Regions from separate parts of the Homo sapiens genome. Here region 1 is linked to region 2. The links come from fine-mapping of genetic effects on gene expression. A gene starts in region 2. The other region holds a variant in brackets. All regions are shown on one strand. Distances are between the middles of the regions. Region 1 overlaps SEC24C (SEC24 homolog C, COPII component). Region 2 holds the start of CAMK2G (calcium/calmodulin dependent protein kinase II gamma).

Evidence for each region. PIP is the estimated chance that this variant, and not a neighbour inherited with it, causes the effect. A credible set is the group of variants that fine-mapping cannot tell apart.
Region 1: its variant is the best candidate, but not a certain one, in a credible set for the expression of CAMK2G in whole blood (TOPMed, PIP 0.69).

What each region holds. Positions count from the first base shown.
Region 1 is chr10:73,754,231-73,762,555 of GRCh38, forward strand. It overlaps SEC24C (SEC24 homolog C, COPII component), which reads left to right. Exons shown (of 23, transcript NM_198597.3): 4 at 5,392-5,564; 5 at 5,788-6,156; 6 at 6,483-6,619. Among named protein-coding and RNA genes, the nearest start is that of POFUT4, 14 kb to the right of the region's middle. RefSeq lists an enhancer at 5,545-5,644. The variant T/C (reference allele first, on the strand shown) is at 4,705.
Region 2 is chr10:73,870,776-73,879,100 of GRCh38, forward strand. CAMK2G (calcium/calmodulin dependent protein kinase II gamma) reads right to left here and starts at 3,780. Exons shown (of 23, transcript NM_001367534.1): 1 at 3,622-3,780; 2 at 2,214-2,308. The coding sequence starts at 3,686. RefSeq lists silencers at 3,173-3,232, 3,493-3,662, 3,723-3,882, 3,893-4,172 and an enhancer at 4,393-4,502.

The DNA.
Region 1 (8,325 bases), 120 kb before region 2:
ATGGTGAAACCCCATCTCTACTAAAAATACAAAAATTAGCTGGGTGTGGTGGCGGGCACCTATAATCTCAGCTACTTGGGAGGCTGAGGCAGGAGAATCGCTTGAACCCAGGAGGCAGAGGTTGCAGTGAGCCAAGATTGTGCCACTGCACTCCATCCTGGGCGACAGAGTGAGACTTCGTCTCAGGAAAAAAAAAGTATATGGGAGGTTATATGCAAATATGATGCCGTATAACCCACATCCAATTCTATTGATTCCACCTTCAAGATGTATCCCAAATCTCACTACAGTCATTCCTCAGTATCCATGGGGGAATGGTTCCAGGACCTCCCCTGACCAACAGATACCAAAATCCACAAAGGCTCAAGTCCCTCATATAAACTCTATTCAAGTAGAGATGTTAGGTAGGCAGGTGCATATACAAATCTGCAGCTCAAGACTGATGCTAGGACTGGAGATAAAAATTTGGGAGTCCTCAGTCTATAGATATTTAAAGCCGTGGGACTAGATGAAATCATTTAAAAAGTGAGTATTGAGATTAAAGAATGGAATTGAGGACTGAGACTTGGAGCTTAGCAACATTTAAAAGTAAAGAGGAGCCGCCATTAAAAGACAATGAGGGGCCAGGTGCAGTGCCTCACTCCTGTAATCCCAGCACTTTGGGAGGCTGAGGCAGGCAGATTGCTTGAGCTCAGGAGTTCGAGACAAGCCTGGGCAACATGGTGAAACCCTGTCTCTACCAAAATACTAAAATTAGCCGGGTGTGGTGGCACATGCCTGTGGTCCCAGCTTCTTGGGAGGCTGAGGTGGGAGGATGGCTTGAAACCAAGAGGCGGAGGTTGCAGTGAGCCGAAATCGCACCGCTGCACTCCAACCTGAATGACAGAGTAAGACCCCATCTCAAACAAACAAAAAAAAAACAAAAGACAATGAGAAAGAGCAGTAGTGAGGTGGGAGATAAGCCGGGAGAGTGTGGTGTCCTGAAGTCAGGTGAAGAGAGTATTTCAAGAAGGTGAGAGAGTAATCAGTTGTGTCAGATGCTGCCAAATTGTAAGATGAAGATGGAGAATTGACCATTGAATTTGGCAAGGTTGGCGTCATTGGTAAAGGCAGTTTCAGTGTAGAGATAAAGAAAACTACCCAGTTGGAGTGAGTCAGAGTTTCAGGCCAGGCGCGGTGGCTCATGCCTGTAATTCCAGCACTTTGGGAGGCCGAGGCGGGTGGATTACAAGGTCAGGAGATCGAGACCATCCTGGCTAACACGGTGAAACCCCGTCTCTACTAAAAATACAAAAAATTAGCTGGGCGCGGTGGCAGGCTCCTATAGTCACAGCTACTTGGGGGGCTGAGGCAGGAGAATGGCGTGAACCCAGGAGGCAGAGCTTGCAGTGAGCCGAGATCTTGCCACTGCACTCCAGCCTGGGCGACAGACAGCGAGACTCCGTCTCAGGAAAAAAAAAAAGTTTCAACCGGGTGGTAGATTGACATAATCTGAAAACCCTCTGCTACCAAAGTCTAGAAAGGAGAGAGAAAATAGAAACAAAAAAAATTTTTAAGTGCAAAGTTAAGCTTGAAAGAAAATGTGAAATTCTTAAGTTTTAGAGACCAAGTGAGGACTGAAAATCTTTTTTTTTTTTTAAATACAGAGTCTTGCTCTGTCGCCCAGGCTGGAGTGCAGTGGCACGATCTCTGCTCACTGCAACCTCTACCTCCCAGGTTCAAGCGATTCCCCTGCCTCAGCCTCCCAAGTAGCTGGGACTACAGATGTGGGCCACCATGCCCGGCTAATTTTTGTATTTTTAGTAGAGATGAGGTTTCACCGTGTTGGCCAGGCTGGTCTCAAACTCCTCGCCTCAGGTGAACCGCCCACCTTGGCCTCCCAAAGTGGTGGGATTACAGGCATGGGCCACTGTGCCTGGCCATCAAGTGAGGACTGAAAATCAGAGTGGTAAATTGACTCTGGAGCTGCCTGTAGATTGGGTGGATTCATCATCTTGAGAAGCCAGGGCCTTAAATTTAAGCAGGTACTGGGGAAGGCAGATGAGTCCTTGGGCTTTCCTGAGAGTAGTTTTGGAACTGAGACATTGTTTATAAAGTCTGGACCTGGGCTGCACCTTCATTGAACAAGCTGACTAGGGGAAAAAAGTCTGCACGCTGGAAAGGGGAGATAAGGAGTGCTGTTTCTCTCAGGCTGGCTGTGGATGGGTGAAAAAAAAAGTTCTTGGGACTGCAAATGGACATGACATCTTTTTGGAATGATGAAAATGTTTTAAAATTTGATTCTGGTGATGGTTGCATAACTAAATTTACTAAAAATCATTGAATTGTTCACTTGAAGTGAATTTAATGGTATGGAAATTACATCTCAGTAATATTTTTTTTTTTTTGAGACAGAGTTTTGGTCTTATTGCCCAGGTTGGAGTGCAATAGCACGATCTCAGCTCACTGCAGCCTCTGCCTCCTGGGTTCAAGTGATTCTCCTGCCTCAGCCTCCCAAGTAGCTGGGATTCCAGGCATGACCACCATGCCAGGCTAATTTTTTGTATTTTTAGTAGAGACAGGGTTTCACCATGTTGGCCAGGCTGGTCTTGAACTGACCTCAAGTGATTCACCTGTGTTGGCCTCCCAAAGTTCTGGGATTACAGGTGTGAGTCACTGTTCCTGGCCAATTTTTTTTTTTTTTTTTTTTTTTTTTTTTGAGATGAAGTCTCGCTCTGTCACCCAGGCTGGAGTGAAGTGGTGTGACCTTGGCTCACTGCAACCTCCACCTCCCAGGTTCAAGTGAATCTCCTGTCTGAACCTCTTGAGTAGCTGGGATTACAGGTGTGCACTACCACGCCTGGGCTAATTTTTGTATTTTTTTAGTAGAGATGGAGTTTCACCATGTTGGTCAGGCTGGTCTTGAACTCCTGACCTCAAATGATCCATCTGTCTCGGCCTCCCAAAGTACTGGGATTACAGGCATGAGCCACTGCACCTGGCCTAATTTTTTTTTTTTTTAAATTAGAGGCCAGGTGCAGTGGCTCATGCCTGTAGTAATCTCAACACCTTGGGAGGCTGAGACAGGAGGATCACTTGAGGCCAGAAGTTTTAGACCAGCCTGGGCAACATAGGGAGATCCTGTCGCTATAAAAAAAAAAAAATAGCTGAGCATTGTTGGTGTGCCTGGGAAGCAGAGGTGGAGGCAGGAGGATTGCTAGAGCCCTGGAGGTTGAGGCTACAGTGAGCCATGATGGCTTCGCTGCACTGTGGCCTGGGTGCCAGAGTGAGACCCTGTCTCAAAAACTAAAAAAAAAAAAAAATCAATCTAGGGTGACACTGTCATTATTGGAGTACCTTCTGGAAACAAATGTAGAACAACCACACCTCAGTCCGGGCTGGAAGGGATTATCGGAGAAAGGCACTTTGATTAGAGTTGGGCCAGGCACAGTGCTCATGTTTGTAATCCCAGCACTTTGTGAAGCCGGGGTAGGAGTTCAAGACTATCCTGGGCAGCATAGCAAGACCCTGTCTCTACAAAAAATAAAAAAAATTAGCTAGGTGTGGTGGTGTGTGCCTGTGGTCTCAGATACTTGGGAGGGGAGGCTTAGGGGGAGGATTGCTTGAGCCCAGGAGGTCAAGGCTGCAGTGAGCCACAGATAGTGAGTGCCATTGTACTCCAGCCTGGGTGACAGAGCGAGACCCTGTCTCAAAAAAAAAAAAAAAAAAAAAAAAAAAACGTAAGGCTGGGCACGGTGGCTCACGCCTGTAATCCCAGCACTTTGGGAGGTTGAGGCGGGCGAATCACGAGGTCAGGAGTTCCGAGACCAGCCCGGCCAACATAGTGAAACCCCGTCTCTACTAAAAATACAAAAATTAGCCAGGCATGATGGTGGGCACCTGTAGTCCCAGCTACTCGGGAGGCTAAGGCAGGAGAATTGCTTGAACCCAGGAGGTGGAGGTTGTGATGGGCCAAGATCGCACCACTGCACTCCAGCCTGGGCGACAGAGTGAGACTCTGTCTCAAAAGAAAAGAAAAGAAAAAAAAAAGTAGAGACAGAGTATAGACCTATTCTTTTGTAATGTTTAGCTAAAAGGGGAGCAAAAGTTTGAGGGGGCTGTGAGGTAATTTGGTTGGATTTTTAAAAAGTTTTTTGAGATATAATTCATATACTGTGCAATTCGTCTGTTTAAAGTGTTTTTGTATATTTAGTGGTTTTTAATATATTGACAGATATGTGCTGTCACAATTTAGTATATTGACAGATATCACTACAGTCAGTTTTAGAACATTTTCATCATCTGAAGAAGAAATACTGCATTCTTTAACTACCCCTGTTTAGCTATTCCCCCATTCCCCTATTCTTCCAACCTTAAGCAACTCCTGATCTACTTTCTGTCTCTAAAGATTTCCCTATTCTGGACTTTTCATTAGAATAGAATCATATACTATGTGATATTTTATAACTGACTTCTTTAATTTAGCATAATATTTTCAAAGTTCAACTATGTTGTAGTGTATATTAGTACTCCATTCCTTTTTGTGGTTAAGTGGTTTTTCATTGTGTAGCTACATGCCACATTTTGTTTATCCATTCTTCTGCTGATAGACATTTGGGATGTTTCCACTATAGTTGGTTTTTGTGTGTGTGTGTGTGTGTGTGAGATGTTTGTATGTTTTTGTGCTGATGGGAATAATCAGAGAGGGAGACACTGAATGGAAAG[T/C]ATATTGGAAAGACACTGTGGTAGACTGAGGCGGGCAGATTCGTTGAGCTCAGGAGTTTGAGACCAGCCTAGGCAACATGGCGAGACTCCGTATCTATAAAAAATGCGAAAACTAGCCACGCATGGTGGCGTGTGACTTTCGTTTCAGCTACTTGAGAGGCTGAGGTGGGAAGATCAGCTGAGCCTGGAAAGTTGAGGCTGCAATGAGCTGTGATCACACCACTGCACTTCAGCCTGGGTGGCAGAGTGAGACCCTGTCTCAAAAAAAAAAAAAAGCTGGACAATCAATCTGCATTTGTTTGATTTCATATTTATTAAGGTTCATGCATGCTTATGCGTGCCTTCCCTTTCAGTGCTTTCAGGGCTTCAGATTACAAAACTGAAGAGGTTTGTCAAAGAATTGAAGCAGAGGAAGCAGTAATTTAGTTAGCAGAGTAAATAGTACTTGACCTGAAGGTGCTTGGTTTATGTTTGTGGAGTGAGCTTAATGGAAAACAAGATTTGCCATGAATAATCAGGAATATAATTTACCCACAAATATACAAAAGTATGAAGCCATAAAAGAACTCAGGGTGTGAGAGTAAGATGTCACAAAACAATGTAGCTTCCTGTATGATGTGACACTTCTGTAGACTTCAAAGGGTGTCCTGGCCCCACTAGTCACCTCTGCTTGCTTTCTTTTCACAGGCTGCCTGGGTCTCAGCCATTTGGGTCCCCATTGGCCCCTGTGGGCAACCAGCCACCTGTGCTTCAGCCCTATGGCCCTCCCCCGACAAGTGCACAGGTGGCTACGCAGCTGTCTGGAATGCAGATCAGCGGTGCTGTGGCCCCAGCCCCTCCTTCTTCAGGGCTGGGCTTTGGTGAGTGGCTGTGAACACAGGAATGTTACTGTCCCCTGTTCAGAGGCATCAGACTCTGGGGTTATACCTGAATCTCTTTTATTTCCCTTGTATTTCCTGTGCCTCTGAGCCTCAGAAGATGGGACAGTCATATTTGCCCCTCTTGTGTGGAAAGGGAAGTGATATACCGAACAAGGAGGCAGAATGACTGGGCTTTTGACTCTACCTTTATTCTACTTCTCAGGCCCACCAACATCGCTGGCTTCAGCCTCAGGAAGTTTCCCTAACTCTGGTCTGTATGGCTCCTATCCTCAGGGCCAGGCTCCTCCCCTTAGCCAGGCCCAAGGTCATCCTGGGATCCAGACTCCCCAGCGATCTGCCCCATCACAGGCCTCCAGCTTCACACCCCCAGCTTCAGGGGGTCCTCGGCTGCCTTCGATGACTGGTCCACTCCTGCCTGGACAGAGTTTTGGAGGGCCCTCAGTGAGCCAGCCCAACCATGTGTCTTCACCTCCTCAAGCTCTGCCCCCTGGCACCCAGATGACTGGGCCCCTGGGACCACTGCCACCTATGCACTCCCCGCAGCAGCCAGGCTATCAGCCCCAACAAAATGGTGAGTCTTTCCCAAGGTCTGTCTTAGAAGCTAGAGGCTTCAGCTACTCAGGTGGTTTTTGATGTTTTTTATTTGTTTGTTTTTAGTATTACTTGCTAAGTGGTGAATTAGATGGGTAGCTTCAGGGTATTATTCCTAGGATATGGGGTTTGTAAGACATTATTTTTTCTTGTCGTTCTGATAACATGGTATTTTTCTGAATGTCTTTGCCAGGCATTAGTGTGCCTCATAATTCTATGTTTTTAGGAGTCTAGTCATTTTCCTGAGGCCTTAAGAAGAGATAGGGATGGGATTTTGAGTTCATCAACCTTGTGTCCTTGTCTCAGGTTCCTTCGGACCAGCCCGGGGCCCTCAGTCTAATTATGGAGGCCCCTACCCAGCAGCACCCACCTTTGGCAGTCAGCCTGGGCCTCCTCAGCCACTGCCTCCTAAGCGCCTGGACCCTGATGCCATCCCAAGCCCTGTAAGTAGAAACTTTCATGGTCCTGAGGAAGGGTTTGTGTCTGCCAGATAGGCAGGTCAATCTAGATGAAATGTTTGCCTAGCATTTTCTGATAATTTTCCCTTTTTGTTCATCTTCTTGGAGAACTTACATATAATTTGATTCTGAACTGGAACTTGAGGTTCTAGGAGTCTTTTGGGGGGCTGTTTTACTCTATAGCTGGGCAGAGAAGGAAGGGAAACCAAGAGTGAGCAGCAGCACCAGTAGATGTCTGAGGGCTGCACTCTGTCACTACTGTACATACATAGTATAGTAGCCTTTGTCCTTCTGTGGAGCAGTGACTGGGTCTTGTCCCCTTAGATCTAGAAGGATGGCATTCTTCCTAATGGGTAGAGCAGGTGGGAATTCTCTGATGTTAGATGTTAAGAGAAGGAAAGCCTCACTGGTTTCTCTGCTCTTACTTGGACAGTTTTAGGAGGAAGTCCCCAGTACTTTTGTTTGGTAGGCTTCTGCTGTGTGGATGGGGAAGAGTGAACGACAGTTTATGAGGGCAGTGTGTATGTAAAGTCCCACTGGAGAGCTGCTTTTTTCAGGAAGAGGGTGAATTGCACCCTTGGAGCCATCAGAATCCTCAGGCCCTCCTTATCAGACTCAGAATAGAGACTAGGACTGTACTGCCAAGTAGGGGCCACTTTATAGTTCCACCTGTAACATTTGCTATGTCAGTTACCTTGCCATGCTTAGCCATTGTCATATTCCATTCTGTTCTCGTCCCTCTTCCTCCTTTGGGTAACCAACACAGTGAGGGAGCCTGTTGGCCAAGGAGAACTCAAGAGGATTAAGCAGCCTCTCCTTCCTTCCCCCTCCTTCAGTGAGAAGGAGAGTCTGGTTGGACATGAAGGGAGGCTTCTTTCAGCATAAGATAGTCCTTAGAATGGGAGGTTTGGCCTTTTAGGGGGAACACTCCTCTTCTTCTTCCTTAAGGTTTCTTCCATTCAGCCTCAGCCCCTCCCTGTGTAACTCCTGCTTGCCTCCTGTTTGCCCCTTTCCTTATCTTTCTACATCATAGTCTGAGCCATTAAAGCCTCTGTGTTGGGCCAGAAAGACTTGGAATTTCATATCTAGAGGGGGCTTGATTTCAGCAATATGAGCTGGGCTCCAGCTGTTCATGTCTAACTCAACAGGGTTGAGAGAAGTAACATCTGCCTCTTGTTCTTTTGTCTCCCTCCTTGTATTCCCCTGCTGCATTTATTATTAAAACACTAAAAGCAACTCAGTGAGCTGCCTCCTCAGCAGAAAACCAGGCACAGAATAGACCCCGATGCCATTCCTAGTCCAGTAAGTGCAGGGGGTGGGTGTTTGTGCATGTCATTCCTGTGTTAGTGCCATCCATGCATGCCTGTGACCTCATCTTCACCTCATCTACCATGTCCATTCCTCCCCATTCTCTTCCTTTAGCCTAGCCCTTCTAGATACTCACTTATACAAGATAAAAGGATATGCATGCCTCAAGTCACCAGGTAATGAAGAGGTAGCAAGCTGTTTGCCTTGAGTATGGGGTGGTGGAAGGTCAGGCTCTAAGGGTGGGGTCAGGTGGCATGTCAAGCTTTGGCTTTAGTTCTGCTGGCACCTCCAGGAGCCTGCAGGTGATGTATGATGGAAGAGGACAAAGTTGAACGGTAGATCATTCCACTTTGGATTTGATTTGTCTGTAGCCTGTTGTGGAG
Region 2 (8,325 bases):
TATAAAATATATAGTGTAAACTGAGAGTCTGCAGGGAAGCCATGGCCCTCACTCCCTAACCCCATGGGAACCAGCCCATGGCTACCCTGGCCCAGATCTCTCCAGGAGTTCACATCTCCCATGCCCACACCTATAGTCCAGCCCCACCTTGTTCCCTCCATCTCCAAGACAGCCCCTTTCCACTTTCCCACCTCCACACAGTACTGGCTGGCACTTACACATTCTGACCCCTCTGGCTGGCATCTGTGCCTATCATCTGTGCCTCTGTCCCAAAGTCAACCTGGCACATGAGGCCACACAACAGAGCCCAGTCTTGGCATATCCATCTTGGGAGAGGGGGAGTTGCTGTCTGAAGCATATACTTTTACACAAGAATCCTCTTCTTGAGGGGAAAAAAAAAAAAATCAACGAGAAATCAAGTCTCATCCAGTTTGGCCAGGGAAAGATATCCATTGGGAAAGATGGGACAAGGTTAAAAGGAGGTGAGGAAGGGAAAGGGAGGCTATCACACAGGTCATGGAAATTTACGCAGGTAGGGAAGGAGTAGGAAATGAAAGCCCCAGTCAGGCAGCTGCAGGAAGTCACCACATCACCTATCCTCACATCCCAGAATTCGGCTCCCAGCCATCTCTCCTTCTCTTACCCATGGGTCAGAGGACACTGGTGAGATGAAGAGAGCAAAGCATTGCATCATCAACTGGAGACACCAGATGCCAGCCCTGTTTCTGATGCACCAGGGCTCTGCTGTGTGGGCAAGAGAGGTATCCAGCCTCAAGCCATTGTTCCTGCCTGCACCTTCCATCCTTGGCCAGAGGATGTCTGCCAGAGAGCCCAGCCCCTGTTGTCCCCCCCACCCCCACTCCAGGGTATCTGACTGCCCACATATCTCTATGGCAACCATCCTCAGACTCAAGGTACCCAGAGAGAAAGAAAACAAACAAGTCCAACTTTATAGGCAATGTACACGAACAGCAAGAGATGGAGCTGGATGGGAGTCAGCAATTAGTGCCCTACTAGAGGGATGGAGAGAGAGTCCCCAGTCAGGGAGTGGACACGGCCCTGCTAAACAGGTCCCAGAACAACTGCCAACACGACAGAAGCCCGTGGAATTGTAGAGCTTCTCTAAGCATTTGGGACATCTATTATGTCTCTTATCCCAGAGAAACCCGTGTCATTATTGGCCAAAGCCCATGTCTTCCCCAGGGCATGTGTCCTGGCTCCTAATATATTTATGGCATCCTACTGCCCAGCCCTAATTCCTTTCTCTGAGTTTCACAACCTTTGTCCCCCAGCTGCACCCTGCAGCCCTCCGAGATCTGACCTCTGTACTCACCAGACCTGTTCCCAGAGCACTTCACACATTGCTGGGTCTACACCTATCAGATGAGGTGAGTTTGGCAAGTACCCAATAGGAAGTTCAGAGAGTGTAGGTTCAAGGTGTGAAAGACAGGCCCTGACCCTCCAAGCCTCAGGTACTTGGGAGGATCTCGCAAGTGAGGCCCCAAGGCCTTGGCCTTTATGCTCCTCAGACTCGGAGGCAGTGCAGTTCCTGCCCAAACCGGGCCTTTGGGATTTCTAGACCATGAGGCATCACCCTCCACCCAGGACAGACTACATCTGCTGCTGCACCACCAACTTTGTAATTTGATCAAAAAAGCAATCAAGTTCATCTGGCAGAATTTGTTCCTGAGAAGCCCTCGCCAGTAGCAGCCTCCCCTGATGTTTACAGATTCCCTTCCCTTGGGAGTCTGTTCTGCCGCCTGGTGGGCAGGGGAGGCTGGCTTTGTCAGAGCTGCTCACTTACTGCATTTCCATCCTAAGTCACCACTGGGGCACAGGGACCAGGAAAGGCCTGCAGTAGCCACCACTGCCCCAAAGGGAGAGGCTCCAAATGCCCCAAATTAAGAGCTCCCCATTCTGTACCACCCACTACCCCCATATCCTCCACCTCCCTGAAGACCGAACTCCCTTGAGCCTTTGGGGGCCACTGCAGCTACTTGCATCTCTTCCTTCATTCTTTTGTACCTGGGCGCTTCCAGTCCCCCATGCAACTCCTTTTCTGGCTTCAGCCTGACACAAAGTCCAACCAGTCTGAAATTCCAACTCCTCTCCAAGTGCTAAAACGCACAACCCCCAATTCCTGGGGCTTCCTCAAAAGAAACCATGGCCCCTGGAGGCACCCTCAGGAAGAGGTCAAGACAGGGAACACTCACCCCGGGCAGACAACTTCTTGGTATTGATGATTTTTGCTGCGTACTCCTGCGTGGAGGTTTTCTTCACACACCTGCGGACCACAGAGAAAGCACCCCTGGAGGGAGAAGGGGAAAAGAACTGGGACACGGAGCAGGGCAGAGTGACACAGACACACTTCAAGTCTGGGGACGATGATGCTCCCACCACCAGACCTCTAGTCACACTCACGTACATGCACACACACCGGCGCTGTGACCACCACCATCCAACATGAGGCAAAAGGACGCGGCCACCGCAGGACACTGAACAGATGTGGGTGGCGTGCCGCGCTCCCACCCCCTCATCCAGTCCCTGGGCAAGGCAACAGCCTCCACCTCAGGCTGCACATCAGGAGCGGGTGGGCGATGCTGAAAACACACACCTGCTGCATCTCAGACAGCCCTGCGGTCCCGGCCAAGAGAACCAGGGCAGAAGGGAGCAGAGAGACCCTGCCCTTCTCTCAGCAGGAACAGTTGAAGGTCGGGGAAGGAAAGATTAAAAAGAGGGTATCATCCCCTGAAAGAGAAATCTCCCTCAACCATGGGGCAAAGTGAGGCTCAAACCCCCCCACAGCCGGTTTCATCTCACTGCATCCCGGCTCAACTGACAGCAAGGGAAGAGAGGACACAGTCAGACATCAAGAACTCCCCTTCCCATGCTATTTTCCTTGACGTCCCCGTCAAACGGGAGCTCGCACTCTGAGCTCTGGAAACGTCTGGGGGGGCGGGCGGGGCGGGGGCTGCAGTGGCCGGGCTCGGCGCCGCGGGTGGGGGTGGGGGGCCGGGGCTGCTGCAGCGGCCAGCTCAGTGCGGAGGGGAGGGGGATGCTGAGGCTGCGGCGCGGCTCCCGGGACCACTGCAGGGGTGGGGGGAGGGGACGGGGGTGCCGCAGCACTGCCCAGCCGCGGGGCTGGGAGCCTGGAGCGGCACCCGCGGGGGGCGGGGCCGGGCGCCAAACAGCCCCCCCACGCCCGGGCTCCGCAGCAGAGCTAGGGCTGCAGGGCTGGGGAGGGTCCTGAGTGCGAGGCGCGTGGGACCTGGGTTCAGGGTGCGGAGTGAGCAACCGGGCAGCGTTGGGAGGTGGTCGGGAGGGGGGCGCCTGAAGGGTGCGGAGGGGCGGGGCTGGAGGGCACCCGGGAGCGGTCCGGGGTCTGCGGTGTCCGCGGCGGCGCGTGGGGAGCAGCGGCCCCGCCAGTTGCTGCAGGGCGCGGAGGGGGATGCGGGGCAGTGCGCGGGGGGCGCGGGGACCGAAGGCGGCGGGCGGGAAAGGCGGGGGTGGGGCGGCCGAGGGGGAGCCGCAGCGGCCGGTGCAGGGCCGGGGGGCGGGGCGAGAAGCCGCATAGCTCCCGGGCGGCAGGGCAGGCAGGGGACCGCGGCGGGCGGGCCGTACTTGCCAAGCTCCTCGAAGAGCTGGTAGTCGTCGGTGAAACGGGTGCAGGTGGCGGTGGTGGCCATGCTGGCGGGCGGGCGGACGCGGCGGTGCAGCCCGCGCCGACGTCGGTGCACAGTCACCGCCGCCCGGCCGAGGGAGCAAGAGGAGGAGACGGGGCTGAGCCCGGCAGCACCGCGAGACTTTACCGGGGAGAGCGAGGGAGGGAGGGACACCCCCGCGCCGCCCGCCCCGCCCCGCCCCCAGGCCCCGCCAGTCCCCCCCCCCGCCCGGCCCCCGGCCCGCCCCCGGGGAGGGGCCTCCCGCCGCCGGCCCCGCCCCGCCCCGGAGCCGCCCTCGCTGGGCCAGGCGCGCGGGGCAGCCGAGGGGAGGGGGTCCCCGCTCCGGGCCACCTGTCTGGGCAGACGGAGCTGGAAGGTTCGCGACTTATGGGCTTGTCCCGGGGCGGACCCCGCGCGGGCTCGGGAACGTGCATGCGAGGGTGCATGTGTTAGGAGTGTAGGAGTCTGGACCACTGACCTCTCTGGACGGGTCCTACACGCGGGTCCCGAGCCCCCAACCGGGCTCCTAGCACGTGGGGAGAGAGCCAAGGTCAAGGAGCCTGTGCCAGGCTGCACGCCCGGGAGGCGCCCCCAGCCTGCGCAGAGCCAGCTGCCAGCCGCCTTCCCTCTGGGAGCTGACAGTCTAGACTTGCGCAAGCACCAGGGCCATTATTAGAAAGAAACCCTTCAGGCGCGGGTTGATCAGGGAGACCAGGCCAGGGGCAAGGATACAGGTAGGACTCTGCCTTCCTGCACCATAACTGCAGAGATGAAAGAGTATTCTCTATCCGGCCAGAAATGAAAGGGGTGAAGTAGGAAGACTTGAAAAGGCTTTGTGCAGTGGGGGCTAGAAGAGAAAGTGGAAGAAAGGGGAAATCCCCATTTTCTTGCAAGGCACCCTCGTACTTTTATTTTCTGGCACCTACCACATTTTGTAGTGATGCATTGACTGGTATAAGGGGCAGTAGAGCTATCTCATAGCTGTCTAAGCGTGAACTTGCATCAAACTGCCTGGATTGGATTTCTAGGCAACTCACTGATCAGCTCTGTGACCTGGGGTAAGTCACTGAATCTTTTTTTTGAGACGGAGTCTTGCGCTGTTGCCCGGGCTGGAGTGCAGTGGTGCGATCTTGGCTCACTGCAGCCTCCACCTCCTGGGTTCAAGCGATTCTCCTGCCTCAGCCTCCCGAGTAGCTGGGATTATGGGCGCGCGCCACCACGCTCGGCTAATTTTTTTGTATTTTTAGTACAGACGGGGCTTCATTATGTTGTAGTAATGAAGTATGTATGTAGTACATACATGAAGTAATGAAGTATGTATGTAGTACAGAGGTGGCTTCATGAGCCACCTCGCCCGGCTGGGAACAATAATATTACCTACCTCATAGGCCTGTCAGCATTAAATGGTCTAAGGCACTTAGAATAGTACTTGGTGCCTAATTAGAACTACATTTGCTGGGCCGGGCGTGGTGGCTCATACCTGTAATCCCAGCACTTTGGGAGGCTGAGGCGGGTGGATCATGAGGTCAGGAGTTCGAGACCAGCCTGGCCAACATGGTGAAATCCTGTCTCTACTAAAAATACAAAAACTAGCTTCCCGCTGAATTGTAGGCTCCAATAAAGCGGGGCCTCTGCACCTTTTGTTCACCATTGTACACTCAGCCCCTGACCCTCAGTAAATATTTGTGGGATGGCAGAGGGAGATACCATCCCTTCTCCTGTCCCCACCATCACAAGTTGGTGGGACAGAGGCACATAACTGTCTTGATGGGGGACAAACAGGCTGGGCAGGTTCCTGACCTGCCTGGGCAGCTGTCCCCTGAGGCTGAGGCCAGCCCCAACTGGGCAGGGTGGAGCTCAGCCAGAGGCTGCCACTCAGTCTTGATTACAGCAGGACGCCCACTGGGAGTCGGGTCTCCCTCGCCAGCAGGCTCGCTCTGCCAGAGGAGGGGGCTGAGAGGTGTCCCAGCCTCCCAAGCTGCCTCCCTGAGGGGTGGGTGGGGCAGAGCTCTCCAGGAGTGCTCCCCTCCTGTCCTGACCCAACAGCCCTGAGAGCTGCTTTGGGAACCAGACTGCCCAGTAGGGGTGATTAGGGAATGGGAGGGCATGAAGCCCTAAAGGAAAAGCATTAGCAGTTCTCTTGGGAGAAGGGTAGAGAGGGCCAAGGGAAAGGGTAGCAGTGCCAGAGCACCATGCCCTACCCCTCCCCAGGGCAACAGGAGGTAAAGTGGAGAGTAAGGCCACTTCCTATCTCAAAGCACCTGGGTGAGAGCCAGGTCCCAAGTCCCAGTGTGGGGTAGGGCAATGAGATTGCATACATGGGGATGCCAGTAAGTGTTGAGTTTCTGTCATCCATCTCCAAAGCAGAAGCAACTTTGAATATCAGTTGATCATCAATGTGCCCTTCCTAAGTGCTCAAGGCAACTTGCTTCCTGACCTCCAGGCTGATACTTGAAACTTTCTATTCATGAATGGAAGGTGGAGTGGAGGAGACCCTGAGAGGTCAGAACAAGCACAGAGGAGGGCTGCCATGGAGTCCCCTAGGAGTATCCTGGGGCAAATGTAAAACAGGACTACAACCCTGACCAGTCTCATGTGCCTGCTGTGAGAGGAACATCATCCCGACTGAGGGGAGGGTTCAACACTAGGTGTTTTGGGGTAACCACGTAAAGCATTTTGCATTGTGTCTCTAGGTAAAAGGAAGAGTGATGAGAAAAATATTGGAGTGAAGCCTCAGGGGTGACTCATAGTACTATATAAGTGGAGCTAGCTGCCTTTCAACAAATATGACTCCCTACCATAGGTTTGTCACTGCCTTTTACTTTTTGAAACATTCAAATAAAGTAGAAAATTAGAATTCACACAATTAGAAGAAAACTCAATCCATCGTCTTTTTTTTTTAACCCCTCAGACAGGGTCTCGCTCTGTCCCCCAGGCTGGAGTACAGTGGTGCTGTCACGGCTCACTGCAGCTTCACCCTCCCAAGTAGCTAGGACTACAGGCATGTGCCACCACACTCAGCTAGTTTTACATTTTTTTATAGAGATGAGGTCTCACAATTTTGACCAGGCTGGTCTCAAACTCGTAGACTCAAGCAATCATCCTGTCTTGGCCTCCAAAAGTGCTAGGATTACAGGCATGAGCCACCTTGTCCAGCCTCCTTTTTCCTTTGTATCTCTACTTCACTTTTCCCTTCCTCCCTCACTACTTCTCTCAACAGCGCAGCCTCTGACGCATCCACGGTGGTGGTTTGGAGCCTATAGACACTTCTGTGTGCACACACAAACACACACCCTCGCACATACACCCTCCTCTATCCCCACTGCTGTAGCGCCCACACAACCTCCAGCTACCCTACAGCAATTAGAGGGAAGATACACACAAATAATAACAAGCTCACCAGCTCCCTCCACTTCAGTGTCTATGGCAACCTCCTGGGGTCTTTGGGCTGGGTTGCTCTGGTTGCAGCCAGTCCCCTGGGCAGCACCAGCACTCAGGCTGTGCTCAGAGCTCAGAGAACAGGGAATGACAAAGATATCAGTACCCTGATAAGCACCAGAGGCACCCCACTGGGTGGGACCATCTTTCTCTTTGAAGCCTGCAAAGTCTCACGTCCATGAGGGGTTTTCAATCCATATTCTAAGCAGAATCCATGGGGTTACGAGGCCAGGCCGCAACAGCTAGTCAACATATATATATTGACGTTCCACATAAGATTTGGTTGCAGTTAAGAGTCCCTGACTAAAAAGAAGTTTGGAACCCATTGGACTTCTGGGTCCTTTCCAACTCTGAGATTCTATGATTAGTTTTGGAGAATTAGGAGTGATGAGATCATGACCTCTCTCCAAGGAACTCTGAGAGAATTATTAATGGTGCGGCATTTAAAACTGGAGAGAAGATGTGATCATGGAGATAGGAAAGAGTGAGAAAGCAAATACAACATTTGTTTTGTTTTGAGACAGTGTCTCACTCTGTCACCCAGGCTGTGGTGCAGTGGTGTGATCCTAACTTACTGCAGCCTCTAACTCCTGGGCTCAAGCCATTCTCCTGCCTCAGCCTCCTGAATGGCTGGGACTATAGGTCCATGCCACTATACCGAGCTTAATTAAATTTTTTTTGGTAGAAATGAGGGTCTTGCTATGTTGCCCAGGCTGGTCTTGAACTCCTGGCCTCAGGCTGTCCTCCTGCTTTGGCCTCTCAAAGTGCTGTGATTACAGGCATGAGCCACTGTAAACACAGTATTTAAATAAGCAATCCTCACACTGGGAGGGAGTGAAGGATGCCCCTCTTTGCCCTGGAAGGTACATCAGAAAAAGCCTACCAGTGGGCTTCTCCAAATCACTACTTTTTCCCATCCTTCCTGAGTCTAAAAGCTGGAAAAAAAAAAAAAAAAAAAGACTGAAACCACAGATTATGTCAATGAGTGCAGCATTTTTTTTTTTCTTTTCTTTTTTTTTTTAAGATAAAGTCTCACCATGTCGCCTAGACTGTTCAGTGGCATGATCCTAGCTCACTGCAGCTTCTATCTCCTGGGCTCAAGTGATCCTCCCACCTCAGTCTCCTGAGTAGCTGGGACTACAGGCACAAGCCACCATGTCCTACTAATTTCTTTTTTTATTTTTAGTAGAGACGAGGTCTTGCTGTGTTGCCTGGGCTGGTCTTG